Regions from separate parts of the Homo sapiens genome. Here region 2 is reported to be linked to region 1. Evidence: microRNA targets listed by miRTarBase, many of them from high-throughput screens and not tested one by one. Region 1 holds a microRNA gene; the other region holds the end of a gene's coding sequence.
What was found. The annotated mature microRNA hsa-miR-5571-5p reads CAAUUCUCAAAGGAGCCUCCC and lies in region 1 at 1,639-1,659, opposite strand. An mRNA with a match to its seed (bases 2 to 7 or 8) in the 3' UTR can be bound and repressed. Matches are read on the target gene's strand: a 7mer-m8 pairs with bases 2 to 8, a 7mer-A1 pairs with bases 2 to 7 and ends in A, and an 8mer does both.

Region 2: miRTarBase lists ZFP3 as a target of hsa-miR-5571-5p. Seed matches in the 3' UTR shown: 7mer-m8 at 2,874-2,880.

What each region holds. Positions count from the first base shown.
Region 1 is chr22:22,884,815-22,887,949 of GRCh38, reverse strand. MIR5571 (microRNA 5571) reads right to left here and starts at 1,683; the gene lies at 1,571-1,683. IGLL5 (immunoglobulin lambda like polypeptide 5) reads right to left here and starts at 134. Exons shown (of 3, transcript NM_001178126.2): 1 at 1-134. It also overlaps IGL.
Region 2 is chr17:5,092,643-5,095,777 of GRCh38, forward strand. ZFP3 (ZFP3 zinc finger protein) reads left to right here. Exons shown (of 2, transcript NM_153018.3): 2 at 1-3,135. The coding sequence ends at 371. Among named protein-coding and RNA genes, the nearest start is that of ZFP3, 16 kb to the left of the region's middle.

The DNA of each region.
Region 1 (3,135 bases):
AGTCCATTGGCTCTGTCCTCTCCCTGGACTGGCTCTGGTCCCTGTCCCTAGCCCAGGCCCTTCCAGGGTCCATGGCTGTCACCCCTGGGGATCTCTCCCAGAGGGGCATCTACCAACTGCCCTGAAGCGGTCACAATCCAGGGCTCAACTGCCTCCCACCACAGCCGGCTGCCTGGCCCCGCCCCTGGGTGGTGCACACCTGACCCACTTGTCTTCCCCACTTCCCAAAGGGCAGCCTGGGTCTGTGGAGCATCTCCCTAGGGCCTAGAGAGCTGCCCAGCAGGAGTCCCCAAGGGCTTGAGCTCAGGGGGTTGGGGCTGGGGCTGGAGCTGTGGCTTCTTTTCTGATCAGTCTTCCAGGCTGGGTGCCTGTACACTGCACTCCAGCCAGTTGGGACCAGCCCTTTCTTGGCTGGGTTGGTTAAGCCTGGCTGGCTATCCTGTGGCCCTTTCCTGAGTCAGGCAAGAGCCCTGCAGGGAGTGATTCTATATCCTTCAGGCAAGGAAGAGTGGTGAAGTCATAAATGTGGAGTCTATCTAGACCTAGGTTACCTCTGGGCCTCAGTTTCCTTATCTGTAAAATGGGGAGAGTTCCTCTGCAGCATGAAGCTTATGAGAGTTAAAGAAACCATGTGTTTGCTAAGCACTCAGTGGGTGTTGAATAAATTCTGGTTCTTTTTTTGTTCTTCTCTTACTTTGGGATTCACAACTACTTGTGGGGTGTCCTTGGGGCCAGTGTCTCTGTTTTACAGGTGAGAAAATTACCATCCAGAGAAGATGAATGCAGGGTCCAATATCATTCCTTAAGTAGGGAGCAAGCTGCGCTAGGATCTAGGAAGGGGCTCGTCCCCTGTATTTCTATTCGTCTGTCCACCTGGAATACTCGTGCCTGGCTCCATTCGGCAGTGGTGGAGGAGGAGAGGGCTGGCAGGTGCTTTAAGTTGGGGTCCTTTTTGACTATAATATGGGAATATGATGCATAATACAATAATAATGCATTACATTATTATTGCTTTACAAGCACTAATCCTGGGAGCTAAGATCATCTACTGTCCTCCACATTTGAAGATGAGGAAATGCTGCTCAGGCTGATTCCCTACTCTTTTAATGTCACAGGGCCAAGAGGCAGTAGGTCTGGAGTCGGAATCTGAGGCCTGGTCCTTGCATGACACTAGGGCGTGCTTTGCTGATGATGACATGGCTCTCTGGGTCTAGGTGGTAACACACTGCTTGGTGCATGGGAAAACCCAGAGCTTGGCACAAAGGAGTGGCTCAATTAAACATGGACTAAATCTGGTTGAATAAACCTCTTTTGCTTCATGTGACCCCTTGTGTCATTTGCACTCCTTTACGCCCCATTCATCGCTCCCATCTTTTCTGTTGCCCTGAGAGCCTAGTATAAAAATGTTTGAGGAGATCTTCAGGACCCCATACTCTGGTGAGAAAGGCCCCTGCTCTGCCCCCTTACATTACAGAACTGCAATGAGGGTCTGCCCTCTTGCTTTCCAGTTTCTTTTTCTGCCACAAAATCTTTAAAAATATCTGCTCAAGTTCAGATCTGCAGCCCTCTAGGACTCTCAATGTTTTGTTTTAGCAACTCTCAGAGGAGCCTCCTAGGACTTCCTAAAGTGAATTTCCTGGGAGGCTCCTTTGAGAATTGCTTGGTTCACATTTTGTGTCAGATACTCCTTAACTTCCTTGATACATTTGGTGACAATCAAGCCAGACATTTTTGTGGGCTATGGTAACAGACAAATAGCCTGAGACTTCATTTCATTGATAAAGTTGATGGTTGTTGGGAGACAGTGGTCTACTATGGATCTCTGCATTTCTGCATGTCTCTCGGGCAAAGGCACTGATTGTGGATTATCTTTTCAAGAGTGTTTGTGGAGTGAACAACCTCGGAAGGTACAGAGAATGCCTCTCTTTGGAGCAAAACACAGATATATGCTTACTGTCAAGTATGAAATATTTGGGATCCCTGAGCTCTGGCATGCAGATGTCACCTGGCCCTCTTTGCATCACCTTGTGGAACTGGTGCAAGACAATGCTGATACCTTGGCAACTGCTATTGCTGTGAAAAACAGATTATTCGTTGTCTCTGACCCAGGAGTCTTGTATCTTCTGCCAGCATCCATGGCACTGTGGCAGGCTTACTTTTTAGTCTGCAAATAGGATGAAGTCTCAGACTCTTAACAGTTCTTGAAGGTGATGATAATGAGGAGGAGGAGGAAGAAAGAGATGAAGTTGAGGATGGTGATCATGACTTAATGGTTCGACTCATCGAATCGGTTTTCAAAGATCTCCAGGCTGGATCTTTATACACATTGCTTGGGTAACTTTTGAGGACCAGGTGCTGGGGGCTGGATTATACAAATAATCACCACACATCCCTGTCCTTCAAAATAGGCAAGGCACTGAGCAGTAACAGGGTGTAGGTGCCCTAACAGACATCATTCAGGGCACAAGGGAGGGCCCTGGGAAACCCCTGGTCCAGCACAGCTTCTCCACTGGGGAGCTTGGCCTATTCCTGCCTCTGATCTTGGGCTCCTTGGATATTCGGGGCTGGGGCAGGGTCTGCCCTGGGAGTCTAGGCTGAAGCTGCTCCCTTCCAGCCCCTCTGTGGGTATGACACTCACCCACTGCTCAGGACCCAGAAGCTGTGGTTCCTTTCAGGGACAGTCCCAGGTCTTGGGGATAAAAAGGGGCTGTCCCTAAATGTAGCATCCCCAGCTGCTGCCCCTACCCCCACCCTTGCACCTGCCATGGCCTCTGGATAGACATCGTCACCGCAGACCACATCCTTCCATGGTGGCTGCAGTCGGAAATCCGAGTCTGTCTGGGGACCCTGGAGGACTGGACTAGGCCTCCCCAGCAGGTGCAGCTGCAGCTCTGGCCACCCAGGCCTATCCCCTGCCCTGAGATGTGCAAGGGCTGGATCCAGGCCTGGGCAGAAGCAGCCAAGTCCAGCTGTCCTGTTTGGCAGACCCCCTGCTGAGGGTCTGTGGTGCCTCTGCAGAGCTCTCTGGGTCCCGCCCTGGCCCTTCTCTCCCAAAGCAGAGGGATGTACCCCATCCAGTTGCTTCTGCCCTGCTCCATGTCTGAGGGTATCCCCCACCTTGGCCTTCTGCTGGTC
Region 2 (3,135 bases), not on the chromosome of region 1:
TTCTTAGACATGAGAGAATTCACACTGGAGAGAAACCCTATGAATGCTTTGAGTGTGGAAAGGCTTTCAGGCGGACCTCTCACCTTATTGTCCACCAGAGAATTCATACTGGAGAGAAACCCCATCAATGTAATGAGTGTGCAAGAACCTTTTGGGATAATTCTGAGCTGCTTCTCCACCAGAAAATTCATATTGGAGAGAAACCTTATGAATGTAGCGAGTGTGAGAAAACATTTAGCCAGCATTCCCAACTTATCATACATCAGAGAATTCACACTGGAGAGAAGCCTTATGAGTGCCAAGAATGTCAGAAGACTTTTAGTCGGAGCTCTCACCTCCTCCGACATCAAAGTGTTCACTGTATGGAGTAATCTGCAAAATAGGAAAGCTTTTAGTGGAAAAGCTAAAGTCCAACTTATTCATTTGTTCATAATATGCAAATATGCACCCCAAGTATTCAAATCCAATGAATGGACAGAACCTCCTCTGTCCTCCCACTGATTTTAAATAGTTGGTTGAAGAAGATGAGGCACTTTTTTTTTTTTTTTTTTAAGCATTGGGGTCTTGCTCTGTTGCCCAGGATGGGATGCAGTGGCACAGTCGTAACTCACTGCTTCCTTGAACTCCTGGGCTCAAACAGTCCTCCTGCCTCAGCCTTCCAAATAGCTAGGACTGCAGGCACTAATGAGGCACTTTTATGAATTATTCATTGAGAGGTTTCAGTGTGCTAAGTTAAATCATAAAAGCTCTTTCAGGCCTTAATTTCCCCTCTGTCCTTCCTTCCCCTTCTCCTCCCCCAGTGGATCACATAACAAACATTAAGGGTCTGTACCAGCCATCTTTCCTAAATTACTCTTCAGCAAAATTGTGGGAACAGGATTCCACCACCTCCTAAGAATGAGAGTTGACTCATTGACTGTTACCCCCTGAAATATTAGAAAGTCATAATTTAGAAGACACACCTCATTCTCCTGTCCACTGTTTAGCATTGGAATAATTTAGTAAGCTGTTATTAGCTTCAAAGTCGTCCAGCCCTGCTATGAAGTTACTTTAGAAGATGGCAGCATTAATGAAGAAGCAGGCTCATTTCACATCTGTCAGGCTTCCTTATTCATCTGAAGAGGCTGCCATGATGGAGGAACTGACAGGCAATTTACAACGGGATTATAAGTGAAGGCCTTAGAATCCAGAGGGGCCGATTAGGCAACACCAGGGGATAAACAATTGAGGTCACACTGCTCGGCATGGGCAGAAGCAGCTCTTCAGGAGCTGTCCACACTTCAGGGGTGCTCAGACTGACTGCTCCTAAGAATTCTGCTGCATATATTTTTAGCCCCATCTCCTGCCACTGCTGACAGATATTGTGACAGTAAGTAGCAGACAGGACTGTGGCTTCACCTCCTCCGGGCACCTGGCTACAGTGATGAGTCAGTTCACCTGATGACAAACCAGGGTCTGGCCTTGCCAAAGCACTTAAGTTCTCATGACCTGGACCGCACTGGAGGCCCTGGCTAAGTCAGGATGTCGTAGCCTCTTCTTGGTTTTGCCCCTTGGCCTTGAAATTCTTTTTTCTTGAATAACTTTAAAAAAATAGAGATAAAGTCTTGCTATGTTGCCCAGGCTGGTCTTGAATGCCTGGGCTCCAGCAATCTTTTTGCCTCAACTTCCCAAAGTATTGAGATTACAGGTGTGAGCTACCATGCCCGGCCTTGAAATTCTTTCTTCGCTATGTCTGCATGTTTTTTGTGTTCTGTATTTATTTCTTCTCCAAGGAAACAGCCTACATTTTCCATGTGTCCATGTTTCTGAGGCCGTGGGTGACAGTGGGAATTGCACTAATGGGGGCCCAACAGGCCTGGGGGCTGGTCTTAGCGCTAGACCTTGAACAAGGCACTTCACCTGCTGGTCTCCAATTTTCTCCTCTGTAAAATGAAAGAGTTGAACTAAGTGATCTCAAAAGTTTCAACCAGCCCGATAATTCCTTAATTCTTTAAAAATTTAACTTTATATATCTTTATTATTCTTTAACCTCATCTTTGTTACACTAATATTAGTCACTAATATTTATTGAGTGTTTACTACCTGACAGGCAGAGTGCCAGTTTACATTTTAATTTTCACATCATTTCTATGATGTGGGTACTCATTTTTTTAAAGCTTTATGAAGGTATAATTTACGTACTATAAAATTCACCTGTTTTAAGTGTTCAGTTGAATGATTTTTAATTTACATAGTGGTGCAACCATCAATGATGTGGGTATTCTTACCCCAATTTAAAAGATAAGAAGGGGCAGTGTTAAGTAATTGACCCATGATTCCACAGCTAGTAAGAGCGACAGCCAAGACTCCAAACCTGGTTGATGCTCTTAACCACTGTGCTATGCCGCAGGTAGGCAGATTCATTACTGCCTTATCTGAAACCCTTTGCACAGTTTCTATTACTGATTTCTATGTAGATTTGAATATAACAAATTTAAATCATGTCCTTGGTAACAGAACTGATCACAGCCAAAAAAAATTCACCAAATGGGTTTATTCTGTACTCCAATATAGGTGTCTTCCCAGGTTTATATCCTTGGCTTGAGAAAAGGGTTGTACAAATAGATGATTGCAGAGTTTCCACATCCTTCCAGATACCTCTGCCTCTAGCAGTCACACTCTTAGTAAGGGAAGTTGTTTGATTTACTTCTTCCCTTAGGTTGATTACAAGTGAAGTGCGCCGTCTTATTCCTTTTTCATTGCTGGAGCACAAATTGAATTGTGCCCAGACCGTATCTTTCTCACATGAAACCTGGATCTCACCTATCCCTTCCATGCCTGATTCCCGTGTTTGCATATTTTATTTCCACATTTACCTCTTGTCAGCCCTGACAGAGAATTTGGCACCCCTTCAAGCTTCTCCTAAACAATCTATGCACACAAACACCCCTGAGCAATATGGACTTCACTGAAGATAGTGTGTAAGCAAAGGAGAAGAGTTCACATTGTGCATCCTATTAGACATTTTGTTCTCAGAAGTACCTTACTGGCCAAACCAATGAAGGTTTTCCTCTTGTCCTCCCCTCTCAAGGCTCAGTCACCTCAACTTCTTTTTGCCTACTAGATATCCAATCCATCACCTCGCCTCCCCTGGCC